3 linked regions of the Homo sapiens genome follow. The protein of the gene in region 2 interacts with the protein of the main gene of each other region in a pairwise test. Each region holds a gene or a part of one and is shown on either strand. Other genes may lie near its edges.

The links.
Region 1: the proteins of ZSCAN26 (region 2) and GOLGA6L9 interact in binary tests that used the Homo sapiens proteins (3 or more experiments, as listed by UniProt).
Region 3: the proteins of ZSCAN26 (region 2) and MTUS2 interact in binary tests that used the Homo sapiens proteins (3 or more experiments, as listed by UniProt).

What each region holds. Positions count from the first base shown.
Region 1 is NC_000015.10:82,424,957-82,432,840, reverse strand, and holds the start of GOLGA6L9 (golgin subfamily A member 6-like protein 9), read right to left. Parts: upstream 3,026-7,884; 5' UTR 2,762-3,025; coding exon 2,678-2,761; intron 2,059-2,677; exon of another isoform or gene 1,947-2,058; intron 1,012-1,946; coding exon 892-1,011; exon of another isoform or gene 270-891; coding exon 210-269; exon of another isoform or gene 25-209; coding exon 1-24.
Region 2 is NC_000006.12:28,262,303-28,270,150, reverse strand, and holds the start of ZSCAN26 (zinc finger and SCAN domain-containing protein 26), read right to left. Parts: upstream 3,009-7,848; 5' UTR 2,938-3,008; exon of another isoform or gene 2,698-2,937; intron 1-2,697. UniProt on the Homo sapiens protein: May be involved in transcriptional regulation.
Region 3 is NC_000013.11:29,502,334-29,506,472, reverse strand, and holds the end of MTUS2 (microtubule-associated tumor suppressor candidate 2), read right to left. Parts: intron 3,481-4,139; coding exon 3,267-3,480; 3' UTR 526-3,266; downstream 1-525. UniProt on the Homo sapiens protein: Binds microtubules. Together with MAPRE1 may target the microtubule depolymerase KIF2C to the plus-end of microtubules. May regulate the dynamics of microtubules at their growing distal tip.

The DNA of each region.
Region 1 (7,884 bases), on a different chromosome or scaffold from region 2:
TACTGCTAGTTCTTGGTACTGGCTCTGAGGTGCATGCAGAGAGAAGGAGTTGGAGAAAGATTGTGGGGAGGGGTAGAGAGAATAATCATTAGGGCTGGTGGGGGTGTGTGGGCTGCCTCAGCTGGCAGAGGGGCAACAAGCCCCTGCTGTGGGAGGAGGTTGGAGGGCTGGCCTGCAGGGTCACTGCACCTCGGCCCAGGGCCTCTTACCTCCAGATCCTGCAGGGTAGTAGAGGATGCACGGCCCTCCCCGTAGATACCTGTTGCTGACTCCAAGAGATGAGAGTGCACATGGAGATGTTCTGTCCCCCCTCACTGTCTAAGCCCTCTGACTTCCTTTCTTCCCCCATCAACTGGCAAAAGCTTCTTTTCTGCCTATCTTGGAACCTTTTTCCCATAACTCCTTTGTGCCAACTTCTCTCGTGGTTCTTATCTCCCCACCATCCCACCCTGGGGCCCTTTCAGTGACTCCTAAAGGGACAGCCTGATGGCAAGTGGCTCTTCTCATTGGCCTGGCTTCCCCTTGAGACTGGGGATGAGGAAAATCAAACAGCAACGACCATTTCCTCGGTGTCCTGGGTGTTTGCAGCAGGCCATGTACTAAGGATTCACATAAAAGCAACAATAACGAATCTCATTTAAACTTCACAAATGGAAGTCAAAAAATACCACCTCTATTATACAGATGTGAAAAGAGAGGCCCAAAGACCTCAAGCAACTTGCCCTAAATCATATGCTAATCAATCCCTAATCAATTCTTAGCAGACGGAGAGGCAGGATTCAAATCCAGAATTCTTAACCAGTACCCAACAGTCCATCTACAATCTTAACAATTACCCTCTACTGCCCCTTGGGCTCCCTGTCCCCAGGAGCCTGGCCCGCCGAGACTCACATCCCCAGGTGAGTGGTAACCACCAGAAGTGAATGTGTCAGGGCTACTGCCATTGATTTTCTTTTTCCTGTTAGCTCCTGCTGGAATGCCAGGGCTCTTCCTCTGCCAATATGCTTTTAACTGTGGGAAAGAAGAGCAGTAACACTCATGAGAATGATCAGCCCCTACAGCCACATCCTCCTTTACAGTTTTGACAAAATACCCTTATATACCATCTGATGTAATGCCACCAACAACTGTACAAGGTGTTGTCACAATCACTTAGTGACTGAGAGGGATTGATATCATGGATAGAAAAAAAAAAAAAGAAAGATCAAAAAAGGCAATACTGGAACTTAAACTCAGTCCTCTGACTCCAAGCTCTGGGGTTTTGCCATGAATCAGCAGCTTCCAGGGACCAAAACCAGGGGCAGAGGTAGAAAAGCACACATTAAGCAGGCAGGAACTGTAGGCCGTGTGGTTTAGAGTCATACATCCTCACAGGTCTGCTAGCGTGAAGAAGCGTACCAGTACCTCTCACACTTTCATATCAATGTGTCCTCATGGCAGAAGGCAGCTTTTCTATTAAATCTGGGAATTTATCAGAAAGAGGACAACCCAAGCCTCATTTCAGAGCGAAGTCTGGTATACGCTTGGAAACCTATGTGTCTGTCATCCCTAAGTACATTAATGCATTTTCTCAAGAGAATCAAGGGAAAATGATGCTTCAGAAAGATGTCCCGCATTTATCCTGTGGCACTCAAAGTACCCCAGGTTGAGACGATATGAGGAAGATTCAAGCTGTCAAGTTCAGTTTCCCAAGATCTATTCCACAGAAGATGAGCAAATCTCACTTCAGAGGCCACTGACTGAAGGGCAGTCTGGTCCCAGAACCGTGGAGAACTCAGAAAAAAATGTTAAAGTCTCTCTGGAAAGTAGAAGCCTGGGAAAAAACCAAACCAAACCCATTCTCCCATTGCCACCCAGAGATACTGTGAACATTTTGAGCTCACAGGGGAAGTGTAGGCTTTTCCCACTGTCAATGTCTATGTTAAGGGAGTAAGGCAGCCTGAAACCTCTTGCTCCTAGGTCCCATAGTCTCCACTCCCCTTCCAGCTGGAAATTTGTGCTGCAACCAGAGGAACCAGAAATGGGGTGAGAAAACTTAGGGGACTGGGTTGTAAGATCAAAGGCCGGTCTTGCAGCAGTAATGACAGTTCCTAGGGGCACTGTGACATCATTGCATTCCACTCCTCCCAGGGGAGGGGACCACATCAGCGCGATGCCCGAGTCGCTGCTCCACGATGGGGGAGGGAAACACACGGTTTCGACCCAGGTCCTCAGAGACGCCAGCCCAAGAAGCCTAGGGAGGTCGAGCTTGGGGCAGCAGGAGGGGAGGGCAGAGTCTGCAGTAGGGAGCCCCGGGAGTCACCAGCCCAAAGCCACCCAGGGATGACTGGTGAGGGCAGGGCCTGGGGCTGGGGGACCCAGGTCCTGGGAGACGCAAGCCCAAAGAGCCCAGGGAGGTTGGGCTTGGGGTGGCAGGAGGTGAGGGCTGATTATGGAGCAGGGAGCCCCAGGAGTCACCTGCCCAAAGTCACCCTGGGGTGATTGGCAAGGGCAGGGACTGGGCTGCTTGCTGAAGGGGTGGGGCTGACTGACTAGGCTTTGGTTGGGGGAGCCCAGAGGGGCTGGGGTTGGGGGGCCCCATCTGGTATGCCTCAGGAGTGGTATGGACTCTGGCACCGGTCTTGTCATCGGAGGGGATCTGTGGCTGGGTTGGGGGCCATGACCTGGTGTGTTTTACCTTTTTCTTGGCTGCGGCCAATTTCCCCTGTTGTGTTTTTTCTGACATCGCGGGGTGGGGAGGGAGGCGGGGTTGGGGCCACATCAGCGAAATACCAGTGAGCACTGCTCAATGCCTCCAGTCACCTACCAGGCAGCTGTGCAACTGAGCCACAGGTGGCGTAACCAGGGCACCAATGGAACGCAGAATAGGGGCGTGGCCTTAATGTTCCAAGCCCATTGGTCAGTGAGAAAGATGAAAGGGAAAGGAGGCGTGGCCAGGCGCAGCATGTCCAGAGGGACCTGTAGCATCATAAGGAAAGCTGCCCATGCAACCGCTGTCCCCGCCCACTCAGAGAGAGGGGAGAGGCCGCCCACTCTGGGAGAGGGGAGGGGCTGGCTTTTGCTTTAAAAGCTTTAAAACTGTTAAAAATAAACTTTAAAAAATATATGTGTATATACTTTATATATGTGTGTCTGTGTGTATCTATGTGTTCCTCCAGAGCTGTCTTCATTATGCAGCTTCTATGCAAAGTCTATGATTTTGGCCTATATTTTTCATCTTCAAATGGAGCACAAGAATTACAAGTATTACCTTAACTGAGATATAGACCCTATAAAAATGGAAAATCCATAGCATTCTTGATGATTAATGAAGCTGACTATAGTATCCGACATTCCAATAACAGAGAATAATCACAACAATTTCTCTTTTTTGGAAAAATGTTTGTCTTATTCTCCTACATTATTGTTAAGATTTCTTTTAAAAACAAGAAACATGTCTAATATCTTTAAAAACACAAAGCTTTTGGGCCAGGTGCGGTGGCTCACCCCTGTAATGCCATCACTTTGGGAGGCCGAGGTGGGTGGATGACCTGAGGTCAGGAGTTCGAGACCAGCCTGGCCAACATGAAGAAACCCTGTCTCTACTAAAAATACAAAAACTAACCAGGTGTGGTGGTGGGTGCTTGTAATCCCAGCTATTTGGGAGGCTGAGGCAGGAGAATCACTTGAACCCAGGAGATGGAGGTTGCAGTGAGCCAAGCTCATGCCACTGCACTCCAGCCTGGGTGACAGAGCAAGACTCCATCTCAAAAGAAATAAAATAAAATAAAATAAGATACAAAATAAGTAGGAACACAAAACTTACAATTTAATAAGCACTTAAAGCTCTTTACTGGTTTAAAACAAATACAAGGCCCATTTTTCTAGAATCACCAGGCCACTCTAGGCCTTGCAAATGAAACTGAATTTCTCACTTGATACCTGGCTATGACTTGCAATCATGAAAACCAAGAATTGTGTTATGTCACTGTGTACTGCTTGTTACCTGAAATCCACACTAGGCTGGGATCAAGGGTTGAATCTTTCATGATTTTTCTCCATAACCTGTGTGCTTCTTATCCCAGACTGAACTAAGCTTTTTTCTAGAGTTCTACAATTTACACTTAATAGACAAGAGTGGTTCTCAAAATGTAGTCTATGGACTAGCAGCACCAGCAGCACCTGAGACCTTTTTATAAGTGCAAATTCTCAGGCCCCACCCTGGACCTGGTGAATCAGAAACTCTGGAGTAGGGTTCAGCAATCTGTGCTGCAGTAATCCCTCCAAGTGTTCAAGAACCTCTGGCATACAGCAGGTAGAAAAATGTGTTTCCTTCTGTAGGTCCAAAGCCAGGGTTACCATATGTTCTGCCTTGTTATGAAACAATGACATGCAATTAAAAGACAAGAATCTCCTTCCTACTCGCACCCTCCATCCAATGTGTTTTATTTGTATGAGTTCCATAAGAAAAACAAGCGGCAATCAGAGATTTAGTCTAAAAAGTATGTTTACAAGTGTCCGTTCTCATCCAGCCTGATCTCCTACAAAACCGTTTACATCCTCTTACATCTCAAGTTTTAAAAAAGTATCTTCACAATGTAAGACTCACGCACACTAGCAGTTCTATAATAAAACACCAAGTAGATCAGAATGTCCAACCTTACTAGAGAAGAAAAGTGGAATCATTGGCTATATTTTCAAATTGCATTCAACAGGAAATTTAAGTTTTGAATTTTTTTCACCTTTATACTTCCAAAGTAATAGAATTAAACCAGAATACGCCATTCTTTCAAAGCCTCTAGCCAGGCAAAGTTTTACTGTATTATTTCTTGCTTTCAATGGATATAAAGCAGATTCCTGGTAGGCACATTCTGTATACCTGCAAAGATGCAGAACTAAACAGTTCCATCTGTTCAATATTAAACCAAAAGTCCTGTAGACCTCGAATGGTGAGTGTAATACTTCAGCACTAGCCCAAAACCTCAAATATGAAAAGATACCAAGAACACCACTAGCAAACAAAACTAAACTCTCAGTCAGGAGCAGGAGCTGACACCTGTAATCCCAGCACTTTGGCAAGCCGAGGTGGGAGGATTACTTGAAGTCAGGAGTTCAAGACTAGCCTGGGCAGCATAAAGAATTCACATCTCCACAAAAATTTTTGAACATTAGCTGGGTGTGGTGGCACACAGCTGTAGTCCTAGCTACTTGGCAGGCTGAGGTGGGAAAATTGCTTGAGGCGAGGAGTTCAAGGCTGCAGTAGCTATGATTATGGCACTGCACTCCAGTCTGGGTGACACAGCGAGACTTAGATAATTACATTTTCTCCTGCTCCTGTTTACACTAAAATCACGAAGTTAAAAGGCTTTCAAATTTGGCAGGATAAAAATTAAGTGAAATGTGACTTTGGAGCTTGGCTAGTGAAAGAAAGAAAGAAAAAAAAGGGAAGAAGGAGGGAGGGAGGGAATAAAGAGAAAGAAAGGAAAGGAAGAAAGAGAGAGAGGGAAAGAAGAAAGAAAAAGAGAGAAAGAAAAAGAAAGAGGAAAGAAAGAGAGGGAGGGAGGGAGGGAAAAGAAAAGAAAGTAAGAATGGAAAGCAAGAAAGAAAAGGAAAGCAAGGAAGGAAGAAGAAGAAAGAAAGAAACAAGGAAAAGAAAGAAAGGGAAAGGAAAGGAAAAAGAAAAGAAGAAAAAATGAAATGACAAATTACTTACTGGGAGAAAGTTTTGTCACCTCAATGACAGATAAAAGGCTTGTATCCTTAGACTATAAAGAAATCTTTAAAATTACTGAGAAAAAAAAACAAATGATTTTCAACCGAAAATGGGCAATGGAGAAACTGGCACTTCTCACAAGAATAAAAATGGCCAGTGGCATATACAAAGATTCAAAAGCACAAGAAATCAAAGAAATGTCATGAAAACAATGAGATTTTCTGTATAAAGGCAGGAAAGATGACAAATGGAAAGGGGAACCTGGAGCTCTGTCCTTGTTGGTGGGAGTATAACCTGAGTCACTTTTCCTGGAGAATGATTTGAAAATTTCTATTAAAAACCCTAAAAATTATTTTCCTCCAGAAATTCTACTTCTATGAATTCAGTCCAAAAATGTTTGCTCGAGCCCATTAAAATGTGTGTATAAGAAAATTCACCTCTGGGGTGGCAGTGATTAACTTAATATACATCCAGCTATTAAAAATGATGATGCCAGGATATATTTACTGCCACAGAAATATGCCCAAAATATAGTAAGTGACAAAAGACTACATACTACGATTCTACTTTTTAAAAGGTTTATGTGCATAAAAACGTATAAAAAGCAACAAACCACAATGTTTTGAGTGGCAAATTAAAGATTTTTCTTAATATTTGTCATCCAAATTATTACAAAAAGAATGATTTCCTTTATAATGAGGGAGAATTGTTATTTTCATTTATTTATATTTAAATATCTTTTCTTTTTCTGATTTTGTTTTCTCCTGTATGTATCCCATGTAGGCTAGAATCCCTGCCTCTTGAGGTAAATCAGCCCATTTTTGGGAAGTGCGCTACAGAAAGCTGCCCCAGCTTCCTTTTAAGAGATCTGGAGACATTTTTTATTTCAAATTGTTTTATCGTTCTCAGATTATTTTGTTTAATATATGAAATTGAGGAAAAGACAAAGGAAAGGCTGACTCCCTACCCTCCTGGGGCTACTCTTCCAATTTTTGCTGCTATTGTTATATATTAATATTCACTGGGTACTAAAAAGATGGGCAGCCCCTTAGATCATTTGTTCTTATCTCTTTCTCATAATCCTACTTCATTCCTTCATTCACTTATTTTTAAAAAGGTCATGTGTACAAACACATGGTTCAGAAAATTTTTAAATATAACTACCTATAAAAGTATGTGGCCAAATCCCATTCACAGTCTTATTCTCCTTCTACAGCCAAACACTTTTAATTGGTTTCTTATATATCATTTCAGAATTTATGTTTGCAAATACACACGTATATTCTTATTCTACTCTTCTCTCTCAACACAAAAAGTAGCATACCATACATACTATACCATTCCTTGTTCCTCTTAAAACACACACAATATATGTGAGTTCTTCTACATGAGTACAGAGGTCTTTGTCATTCTTCTTTACAACCGCACAGTATTCATCGTTTGGATGTACCACAGTTTACTTAACCAGTTCCCTGTTGGTGGACACTGAAGTCATCCCTATCATACTATTACAAACAATAATGCCAAGCATAACCACCCACATACCAAGTTCATTTCTGAATCTGCCTTTGATGAAGCCTCTATTTGAATCACCACAAGGTCACAAGGCTGAAAAGTTAGCCAATTTTTTAGTTTTCATTATGTACAGCAGTATGTAGCAAAAGACTCCCTTGGGCAAAGCAAATGTGCTCTTTGGGGATTTACTGCATAACAATAAATGGATTAACACCAAGGAGAAATATTTCTATTTAACCATGCACATGTATGTATATAATACATGCATATGCATAGATAGTATACAATAAATCCATCAAAGCATTAAGCATTGTCTCAGTATGGTGGATCTATGGAGTGCTTTGTAGACAGCCCTCCTTGCCTATCAATTCTTTCTAGTTTCAAAACAGTGAATATGTACTATTTTTGCAATATAAAATTTCAATAAATGTTAACTCAAGCCAGGTACATTCCTTCAGTCTGTCCTATATTTGTATGGTGCTCCAGAGTGCTCAAATATCATTTCATTAAAAAAATTTACTTATTTTTTTTCAAATATAGAAACAGGCAGGGCTTTGCTCTGTTGACCAGGCTGGTCTTGAACTCCTAGATCCTCCTGGATCCTCCCACTTCCACCTCCCAAAGTGCCGGTATTACAAGTGGGAGCCATCCGGCCCGGCCGGCTTCATTTGAGAAAT
Region 2 (7,848 bases):
ATTATCAGTGAAACCCCGTGTCTACTAAAAATACAAAAAATGAGCCGGGTGTGGTGGCACACGCCTGTAGTCCTAGCTACTCGGGAGGCTAAGGCAGGAGAATCACTTGAACCCAGGAGGTGGAGGTTGCAGTGAGCTGAGATCACACCACTGCACTCCAGCCTGGGCGACAGAGTGAGACTCTGTCTCAAAAAAAGTGATGATTATTAGCCAGAAAATAAAAGATTGGTATTGTAATGGTTAATTTTATGTGTCAACTTAACTGGCCACAGGGTGCTCAGATATTTGGTCAAACATTATTCTGGATGTTTCTGTGAGGGTGTTTTTGGAATGAGATTAACATTTAAATTGGTAGACTGTTGACTAAAACAGACTGCCCTCCATAATGTTGGTGGGCCTCATCCAAGCAGTTAAAAGTCTGACTAGAACAAAAAGGCTGACTCATCCCTGAGTAAGAGAATTCTTCCTGTCTAAAATGCTTCAAACTGAATCATCAGCTTTTTTCTTGCCATCAGACTTGGAACTAAAACAGCTCTTACTGAATCTCAAGCCTATGGCCTTCAGACAGGAACTACACCATCAGCTCTCCTGGTTCTCAGGCCTTTGGGCTTGAGCTGGAACTAAACCATTTGCTCTCCTGGGTCTCCAGCCTGAAAACTCACTCTGAAGATACTGAGACTTGCCAGCCTCCATAATGACCTATGCTAATTCCCTATAGTAAATCTCTTTCTAGATCTCTACCTATCTTTACCGATATAGATACCCTAGTTATACAAATAATGACACAAATACAGGCATATGTATATATATACATAATTCGTATTATTGTTTAGGTATATATACCTGTATTCGTATTTTTTATATATACCTGTATTCATATTATTATATCTATAGAGATATCTATACCCATATCAGTATATATCTATGCCACATACATATATATATACTGGTATCTATATCAGTATTGGTATATAAATAAACATGTGGTATGATGTTGATATGTATATATAGGGTATGATGTGTTTTTTTTTTTTCTTTGAAATGGAGTCTGCCTCTGTTGCCCAGGCTGGAGTACAGCAGCGCAATCTTGGCTTACTGCAACCTCCGCCTCCCGGGTTCAAGTGATTCTCCTCCCTCAGCCTCCCGAATAGCTGGGATTACAAATGCCTGCCATGACACCCAGCTAATTTTTGTAATTTTAGCAGAGACAGTGTTTCACCATGTTGGCCAAGCTGGTCTCGAATTCCTGACCTCAAGTGATCCACCGTCCTCAGCCTCCCGAAGTGCTGGGATTACAGGCATGAGCCACCGTGCCTGGCTGGGTATGAGGCTGAATTAGTGGTGAGTTCATTTCTATAATGTGATTAAATATATCAAACACAATATATAATAAATAATTTGATAAACTGTTTTGGGAGGAGCTCCATCTACCCAGCTATTTGAGCCAGAAAACTGACCATTCCTTCCTCCTTTCATATCTCATGTATCTGATCAATCAAGTTCTATTGATTCTATTGCTTAAATATCTCTCAAATCAATCCACTTCTCATCCCCTTTGCCATTGTCTTCTCCTACCTAGACCACTGTGACAAACAGACTGGTCTGAGACACCAATCTATTTTCCACACGCAAACAGTGATCATTCTAAGGAGGATATGAAATATTATTATGTCCCTGCTATGCCTGTTACATATAATGGCTGATTATTACCCTTAGGATCAAGTTCAAAACATTTAATATGGTTTACATTGTTTTTTGATCTAATAAAGTACTTTATTTCATCAAATTTGCAATACTCCTTCTTGCTCCTTGGCCCTTCCACAGCTTATTCCTTCTGCTTGGACCACCCTCCAACCCTCCAATTTTCTTCTTGTTAATGCCCACTCACACTTCATGTCTCAGCATAATAAAACAATGAGCCAGGACAACTATACTACATGTTTCACATATATTAATTATTTAACCCTCACACAACCCTATAAAGAAGACACTATTCCTAATTTCTTCGTGCAGAGAAGGAAATTGAGACGGGGAGAGTTGAAGAACTTACACGAGGTACCAAAGCTAAACCTCAGATCTTTTCTCCAGTATCTCTTGCACCCACAGGCCCAAAACCTTGGATTTATATTTGCCTTCTTACTGTCACACCCTACATCTGACCCAGTAGCAAATATTATTGTCTCTATTTTCAAAGCAGATCATAATCTGATCACTGGCTCAAGATATCCTTATCTCCCACCTGAATTACTTGGAATTTTAAAAAATTACTCTTAACTTTTAAGTTTTCTTGATTCCATTCTTGCCCACTTACAATCTATTATCATCATGAGTCTCCAAGTAAAGAAGCTTTAAAACATAAGTCAGATCATGTTTTCTTCTGCTCAAAATCCTCCAAAAACACACACCAAAAAAAGACAAAATTCCTTACACGATACAGTTCTCATTTCCTCTACACTCTTCCTCTCCATACCCCAATCTCTCTGACATCATTCCCTACAAAGGTCGCCTTTGTTCACTGCTCCAACCGCTCTGGTCTCCCCGTTATTCCTCAAATATGCCAAGCAAGCTCCTGCTTTAAGACCTTTGCACTTGCTATTCCCTCTACCTAGAAAGTTCCTGACCGCAAAAGCCACTTAGGTCTTTCCACCCACCTCCTTCAGATTTCTGCTCAAATATTACCTTCTCGGTGGCGCCTACCTTTAATATCTACTTAAAATTGCGCTGAATGGATGAAAAATATGCAGCAGAAGGTTGTACTCTGTTTACCAGATCCACAGCTTCATCACTCTCATAGGCCCCAGGGCCGACACCTCCGCTACGGACCCCGCCCCCTCGGTCGAGGGAAGATTCTCTGCACCCGCCGGGAAGCAGCTGCTCCCTAGGCCCCTAGGCCGCAGTTCCGCCCCAGCCCGGGGCCCAGCTCCAGGGTCCGCTCACCTGGTCAAGGGGCCTCAGAGGACCCAAACGCTCTGAAACAGCGTCTTAGCTCATCGCCGAGTGTCAGCTCTAGCTCTTCGGAGCGCTTTCTTCTCCGCTCTAGGAACGCTGGAGGACCTTGGCTCGATGGTGCTGCCGCTTAGGCATCGCAGAAGGAGACTAACATGGGTGCTGCCTGCTGAGGACGGCTGGGAGGGTCATTTCGTTGTGAGCTAAGATTGTTGGGGTTTTTTTTTTGTTTCTGTTTTTGTTTTTGTTTTCTCATTTTAAAGTGGATGTTTATTTTATTCATGTAAAAACAGGCCAGCTCCGTTGAGTGTTATCACAAACAGCCAACATTTTCACTTTGCTCACATAAATAAAACACACATACTTCGCCATTTTTCGCAATTTAGAAATTCATCAAACACAATGGCAAAAATAATTGTCAAAGTATTTCGAAAATTAAACTAAACAATGGACATACGTTTGGATTGAAAGGTTTAAGGTAAGAAGAAATTAGGGCTATTACTGTGAGAGAAAATAAATCAACAACACTTTGCAATCAATGTAAGTTTCAGGGGGAATAAAAGCAACAGATATCACTTTATCAAAATAAATTCTACAACAGAGAACAGAAATAGTCTCTCTTGCCCACAGTATCACAAACTGGGTTTTTATAGTTTTTGAATAAGATAAACTCTTTGAATGCTTATACATTGCTAGTGGGAATGTAAATTAGTTCTGCCACTGTGGAAAGCAATTTGGAAATTTCTTAAGGAACTTAAAACAGAGCTCTCATTTGACCCAGCAATTCCATTATTGGGTATATACCCAGAGGAATATACTGTTCTACCATAAAGACCATGCATGTGTATGTTCATCACAGCACTTTTCACAATAGCAGAAACATGGAATCAACCTAGATGCCCATCAGTGGTGGACTGGAAAAAGAAAATGTGGTACATAACACCATGGAATATCATGCAGCTAAAAGAATGAGATCATGTCCTTTGCAGCAACATGGATGCAGCTGGAGGCCATTTATCCTAAGCCAATTAACACAGGAACAGAAAACCAAATACTGCATGTTCTTACTTATAAGTGGGTGCTAAACATTCAGTAAACATGAACACAAATGGGAACAACAGACACAAGGACTTCTTGAGGGTGGAGGGTGAGAGGAAGGTGAAGATTGAAAAGTTACCTATAAGGTACTATGCTACCACTTTGGTGACAAAATCATTTGTACACCAAACCCCAGCAGTATGCACTTTATTCATGTAACATACCTGCACATGTACCCACTGAACCTAAAACAAAAGTTGGAAGAAAGAAAAAAAAACCTTTAAAAAATCTGAACAAACTTTTGTGTTTAACTGATCAGTTGACAGAAGCTTTGAAATATCATTAAATATACAAAACATTGTACTGACGTGTAATTTATTCAGTGTTTCAAGCATTGAAATTATCATAACAGAAAAAAAACAACCAGTTTCATTATCACAAGCAGTTATCTTTTCTTCTTAAGTGTCTGAATGTATCTTTGAAAGCATATTTTTAAAGTAAAAATTAAATATGTTTACTTTAAAACTTTTCATAAGGCCAACAAATCTAGTCAATATGTGTTACTAATTAGAAGTCAATATTCTTTCTTGAGAGGAAAACTCATATATCTTATTTTTTAATATCTAGAAAAGGACCTTTTCAAAAATTATATAAGGGATAAACATAAAGAAAATTTAATTTAAATAGAAAGTAAATACTATATCCTATTTACTCCCCCTCTAAAATTCCCTACTATGACTAGTTTCTTAAATCTGTCACTTTTATTGTCAAGGCTGAGATTATTGCCATTGCACTGGATATCCCATGAAAATCAAAACCTTTAAAGTAGCTAGACAAAGAAGAGTTTTTTTAAATTTTCAAGGTGTGCATTTTTCATTTAAACAGTCTGTTTGTACCTTTTGGGAGGGGTAGGGGTAGATAAGGTGAGAATAACTCAAAACACTGTTATCACCAGGAGAGACAAAATACTAAAATACAAATCAATTTTCAAACTTGAGGTTTTCATTTTCCAGGATTATCCTTATTTTTGTAAACTATAGTGATCATGTTTCTGCCAGGTCCATTCATACGATATTCAAGATAAGAACTTTCTTTTCCATATTATCAGTAGAGATGCTATCGCATTATGAGTCATGTCACCATGCTCCAGCATAAGATTTACAGTTCTTATCTTCTGGTAATGATGCTTCCTGCTCTTCTCTCTGCTTCTTATACGTATACAGCAAGGTCTCATTCATTACTCTGAGTTTTAAAATAAGTTATTTGTCCAGTGATCGTTCTAAACAATCAAAGCCTACAAATGAATCTAACAAATTTATAGCTTAATATTAGGAACCTATAACTTTAAGTCACCCATATTAGGCTGATAAAGAAAAATCATATAATCTCCACAAATGCTACAATGTCATTTCATAAAACTCAACATATATTTCTGACTAAAAGCAGAAACTCCTAATAAAAAATAAATAGATGGATGATTCCTTTATAAGGCAAAAATAAATACATCTCAAATATACCAAAAACCTCCCTTATATTTGATGGTGAAATCTTAGACATATCCCCCATAAATTCAGATTAAAGTCTAGCTGAATTCGTTAGGCTAAGAATAAAAAGAGCAATTTTGCTAAATGTATGATTTCTTACTCCCTAAATTGCTGGTGGCTAAGGTTAAGAAACACCTTCCCTTGTGCTACAGAACTTTAAAACAAACAAACATGAAATACACATTAGACCCCTTATGCCAGTGGGAGATTTTTATATTTTGTGAAACACTACTTTTGATAATTCCACAAAGTCATATAATGATGGTCTGTGAGAACATTAATGCTATTTCATAAAATGTATCAATTGTAAATCAGCACAGCCTCACTAGTTTGCTTTCTTAGGCTGTTTCTCAGCACTGAATAAAACTCAGTGTAACTCTAGTGGCTAAGACAAGTTATTTGATCTGTTCAACTTCCTGCTTGAGCAGAGTGAAATAATAAAGTGATTCTGATGGTTTCTTGAAATGTAAACGTAATACAAAATTTTCGTTATACTGTTTTTCTTCTATTTCACAATCCATAGCTACATACTCTGGGCAAAACTACTTCAAAGGAAAAGTTGTAACCCTTTTTATTAGCTCCCCTGAGACAACAGTGATCTGCAGTCATATTCCAACTCTTGAAATCTCTTTTAAGGCAGATTTATTGGCCAAGTCCCTCTCTAATAGCAACATTAAATGGCAAGTTAAGCATAACTACAGCAAAAAAGCTATCATGAGTATTCCACTGTAGGCATTAGACATACTATTTGTTGCATGGTGTGTATTTTATCTTTCTGGGAAAGAAGCTCACCGATCTTACCTTGGCTTACTTAGAAGTCAGTTTCTCAGCTGCATCTTCTTCCAAGCGAGAAAGATAAAGATATTTGTTTGGCCACTGTTAGAAAACCTTTTTAGGCTTTAACGGGCATTACAGTCAAGTGTCTCTCAGAAAAACAAGTCAAAGGTAAATAACACGGAGATATATTTGCAAGATATTTGATAAAGATCTAATTTATTAAAGAGTTTTTATGACCAGTTAAGAAAAAAGACCAACAACGCTATAGAAGAGTGGACAAAGGTTATCAGAGGAGCAGTTCACATACACACAAAAGAATTTCAAAAGACTCGTAAATACATCTATGAAAGGATGCTCTATCTTACTTTTAATAATAAATACAAATAAAATGCCATTTTCACCTTAGATTGGGAAAGATCAAAAGGTTTGAAAATACAATATTGGTGATGATGTTGGTGAGTGTGTAAACATAGAAGGTGGTGTTGCAATATCTACTAAAATTTAAAAGCACACACAGCTTAAATCTGGCATTCTTAGTCTTTCCTTGACCACTATATCAAAAAAGTTCCCCCCAATTCTGTCTCTAGCCCGTTACTTTTTTCACATCATACTGTAATTTGTAATTTTTGCCTGTTGGCTTTTATAAGTCTGTCTCCCCCAGTAAAATGTAAAATTCTATGATGGCAAGGAGCAAGTCTAACTTGTTTCTTGGTTTATCCTCAGTACCAGCCATAGTGCCTAATACATAGAAAGCACCTGATATTTTCCCTTTGTTTCAATAATTCTATTTTGAGGTTAGCATTTCTAGATGACCAAAAGGATTCTTTTTGACCTAATATTCATCTATTTTTAGTTGAATATGCTACAAATATACTGTCACATATCCACAGAGGCTTTCAATATAGTACTCTGTGACAGTAAAATACAGAAAAACATCTTAACCATCCAACAAAATACGGTGCTTTCATATAATGGAATACTACAAGATTATCTAAAAGAAAGAAAGATTCATATGTATTGATATAAAACATCTCCAGGATGTATTAATTGAAAAGAGCAAGGTGTCAATCCATGTGTATCATGTGGTATAGTTTGTTCTAAAAATGGAAATACGCACATGTAACAGCATGTCTATCACCAATATGCCACAACACCCTTTGGCGAAAATCTCAAGGTGGTGTGGTCCAGTATCAGCCATGTCACATCCTGTGGAAGGGTAAATGTGCCCTTCCACATCACACTGCCCTGCCAGATTCTAGAACCCCATTTCCTCACCTTCAGTTCTGTGGGGGCTAATCAGTCTTTTGAACTTTGAAAAGGGGGTTATCCAAATGAGATAGTTTGGCTAGTGTTGAATTAAAGTCTCAGGGGCCAGGCACATATCACTGAATGACAACAAAGGCCTTTTAATAGACCATGAATGGAGCTCACTCTGAAGTTTTCCCAAGACTGGTGCCAGCCAGTCTCTCGTTGCTAATTCTCCTGTCCTTGTGGTCCCTCCTGATCTGGTCTCCTCCTCATGAGTTCTGCCAACTACCTTATT
Region 3 (4,139 bases), on a different chromosome or scaffold from region 2:
TCACTACTTGTTCAGGAGGGACTTGCTGATCTCGCTGAAATAGCTGCCACTCCCACAGACCCTGCAAAACCACCACAGGGAACCTGCGAACCCAGCTGTCTCCCTTGTGATGGTGCCAGACACCTGTGGGACACTTCGAGGTCCAGCTGGCTAAACCGGCTGCAGCCCAAACTGAAGGCCATCGGGATGGGGGGAGCAAGCACTTTCAGGTTGAAATGAGTGAATGACCTTTTATGTCCTCCTTCCAGCCAACTCCAGCGCACCCGGCCTTGCAGAGCAGAGGCACTGAGCTCCCAAGTCCAGGGGAGGGGCTGCTCAAGCCCCCAGGCTGGAGGGGTGGGCGCAGGGACCTGGGACCTGCGGAGTCAGGGGAGAGGGGGTCTCTACAAGACTTCTCTCACGGACCATCACCCAACCCCGGCACACACAGAAAAGGGGTCCAGCCTGCAAACGCCACCCCCCTTGCCTCCCTGCCTGGGATCCCCAGCCTGAGAGGGACAGGTCTCCAGTTACATCAAGTAGATATCGCAGAAAGTCCCTCAAGTTTATTTTAATAGGCTTTAAACACAAATATGCAACACAAACTGTAGGGGCAGGAAAAGGGATGTTGTGACCCCATTCATTCAACTAATCACGGCCAGGGCTGCCCCCACCCCCATCCATTCTGACATCCAGCCAGAACCTTGTCCCAGCATGTGGTGGGCAGGGGCGGCGGTCGGGGGGCAGGCCGCCCACGCATCTCCCAAATGCCACGAAGAGACAGGTGGTATCTGGTGGGTCTGTCTGAGGCAGGTGCAGAGGCTGCAGCATCCGAACGTGGAAACGTCGCTCCAGCCTGGAAGGGGACAGAGGCAGACGCCACGTGGAGAGAAATCCGAATTCTGATGGTGTGGGGGGGTGGAAGAATTGAGAAGGAGGCACAGCAGCTGCCGCCCCATGTGTTTCGGGAGCGGTGATGGCTCAGATGAGGAGCCATACATGATGGGTGTCCGTAACAAAAGAAAAAAAACAAACAAACCACGAAGCCAGGGCCACGTGGAAATTAGCTCAAGTACCCAAGGTCAGGGCAGGTTAGGGCAAAGCTCTCACCGAAGTCCACCTAATGAGGAATTACTTAGTGCTAACGATGCTACAACTCTGACCACAGCAGCCTAATACACTGTACCACGTTCTAGCATCACACGGAAGTCAGTATTGCTGTGTAACTGCATTTAGCAGGTGCGGCTATGTAAGCGGTTCCTAATTCGGACAGCTAAGCTGTAACTGAATTTGTGTTTGCAGGTTGTGCCTGCTACTAGAATAAATACTTGTGTATTTAGTCAATGTGGCAAGATCTACTCTAATGGAATGCCCAACTCAATATCACAGTATCATGCAGAGCCACTAAAGCAAAGAGAAATGGTGGTGTTTCCATGTGGATTTACTGTGTACGTCCCCAGAAGGAGCAAGACCCTTGGAGGTTGGCTGGAGATGCACCTGAGGCCCGGAAGCCCAGCGTGGACTCATCCTAGGGCCAGGGACCATGTCTGCCTTCACGTTGGCAACACGTGTGCCGAGCAGGCGTGCCCTGGACAAGCCGACCCCGTCCGCGGGCTGTTTTCTTCCCCGTTCCATGGCTCCGGCCCCTGCAGGACCCCCTCATGGTTCTTCTCGCCTTGGGCACGCTCAAAGACAGGCCTGTGCTCAGGACAATTTTGGGGGGGTCTCAGGGAGAAAGTGCAGGGTCTTTGTCACATACAGGAAACAAGGGCATCATCATCATCACCATATCTGTTAAAACTACTTCTTCCTTTTGTGTATCATGCTCCTAATCTTCCACACCACTACATGAGTACTGTTCATATCCTAATTCTACCATTTTAGAGACAGATGCCAGTCCAGGAGCTGGTGCCCCCTGGCTGGCTGTTTCACTGGGCTCCTCTGTTTGGGAGAACCTTCTGGGTCTAAGATGGGAGCACGGTCAGCAGCAGCGTTGCCTGATCATCCAGCAGGAAGTGCAAGTGGGTTTCTGGGTGGTCGTGTGATGATCTAGCACAGCTCAGAACTGGTCCCCCGGGACAGAAATGGTGTTTTTTTTTTCTGGAAGCCCCTGCTAGAACCCCTGAGCCATCTCAATGTGCAGTGAAGGGGTTGAGTTGTAGAACCAAACTGAAGGGGGGCTGCTAGGAAATGGGGGCCTGAGGGTCCTATTTCAAAGAGTTGATCATTTACAGCATCGCATCAGAGTGAACCACATGGAAAGCTGGAGTGATGTTCCCCCTCTGTGCCTGGTCAAAATACAGACCTTGGCAGCAATTTCCTTCATGAGGATGGAGCGCGAATGGGCACAGTCATCTGCAAGGTCATCCTCACTCTTACTCAAAGGTCATGCTCTGCCATGTTTTCCGGAGGGTGCAACAATAGCTTAATGACCGAGTCTGAGATGCCATTTAGGAAAAAAGCAAAACTTGTGTTTACAAGACTATCAGAGATGAGTCACTGTCATGGGTAACATCTGCAAAACTGCTAAACCCCCTTAGGGTTTCCCACTGCTCTCCCTTATCCGCTCATGACAGGAGTATCAATAATTAAAACTTGCGAATGGAATAATAGTGATCTCACATCATGTTGACTGAGAAGCTGATTGTTCCAAAGGCAGTTACCGTTCACAAATAGCTGGTGTTCGTGTTAAAGAGAGTACCACTTGGTGGTGAGTTGAAAGGCGCTTCTTCTCTGTATCTTTTTTTTTTTCCTTTTTCTATTTTGGGTAGAAATATTCCTGGGAAGCTAGATAGAAATGCATTTTCATTTCCCAATAATTCTTAGGCACAAGTTAGAAAACTGCTGACCTTCACTAAAATATGTCAGCACTTCATGTTATAAAAAATGAAATTCAGAACCGCAGCATGTGTATATACGTATATCTAAATATACACACATATCGGTGCAGTACACAATGATTATTCAATGTATATTGAAAACTGAGCTTTTTGTAACTAACCTGAAATTCTGCAGTGAAAGTTCATTGCTCAAGAACAATTGCAAGTGTCTTTCTTTTGGCTCTAACTATGGTAAAACGTTTGCACATCAGACTTTACCATTTACACATTCCTAAGTGCCGACACCAGGGCAGTCTTACACGGGGATCAGAGGAGGACGCGCCTAGGATGCATTCGCAGCTACTGAGCATGCGCACAGGGCCAGCTCCGGCGGCACCGGGTCGGTGCTCCCTCAGGGTGGAGACCGGAGGACGAGAAGCCGGAGCTCCCGCAGGCCGTGTAGTGGCGTCATCTGGGTGTTGTGCTGACTCTGGCCGGAGAGGAGGGCCCCGAGGAGGAGCCGCGGTAAACGGGAGATGTGGGCGAGAGTTTAATCGGACTGGTCGGGTCCCCAGTTTGGAGCTTCCAAAGCAGCTCTTCATTGGTTCGGCTCAATCTCTTCTTCTCCTGGGTTTCCTTCTCAACATATTCCTGGAGGTTAGCATTTTCCTCCGACAGCTGTCTGCATGGGCACAATGACAAATAAGTAGCAATCATGCTAGTGGACACTGAACCTGAGGTCAGGACAATGGTGCAGGGCAAAGGGAGGAGGCCATGATGACCGCAGGGAGAACAGGGACCAGGGTGACCCAGTGACCAAGAACTTTGGTTGAATCATGATTTCCATTTGGCCCAATGACACATCTGTTCCCAGAGCCTCTCTGGCCAATACCCATCATCCCACAGGCCCTCTGCCCGGTCAGGGGAGGCACTGGCTGTCCACTGGACAGAGCAAAGGCCAGCGACTGAAAGGAGGGAAGCGGAGAGCTGGAGTGGGTATGCTGCCCGGAAGCTCCGAAAGGAGAGACAGCCGCGCAGCTGGCAATTGACAATGACAACAGCACAATAGCAGTGAAGAGCCGCGGGCCTTCCTGAGACTGCCAGGAAGCTGGGGGTGCCTTCTCCTGGCCTCCCTGCCCCAGGCTTGTGCCTCCACGATGGCAGGTGTCCTCCCCTGCTGGAAATGCTGCTCTAGGGGTCTGTGTCTGCCTGCTAGACTGGGAGCTCCGGAGGACAGAGGCCAAGGCTCTGCATGCTGAACTCCCAGCATCCAGCTGGTGCTAGGCACGTAACAGATGCTCAGTTAATGTTTGCCGATAAAGGCTGGTGGGTGAAAAAATG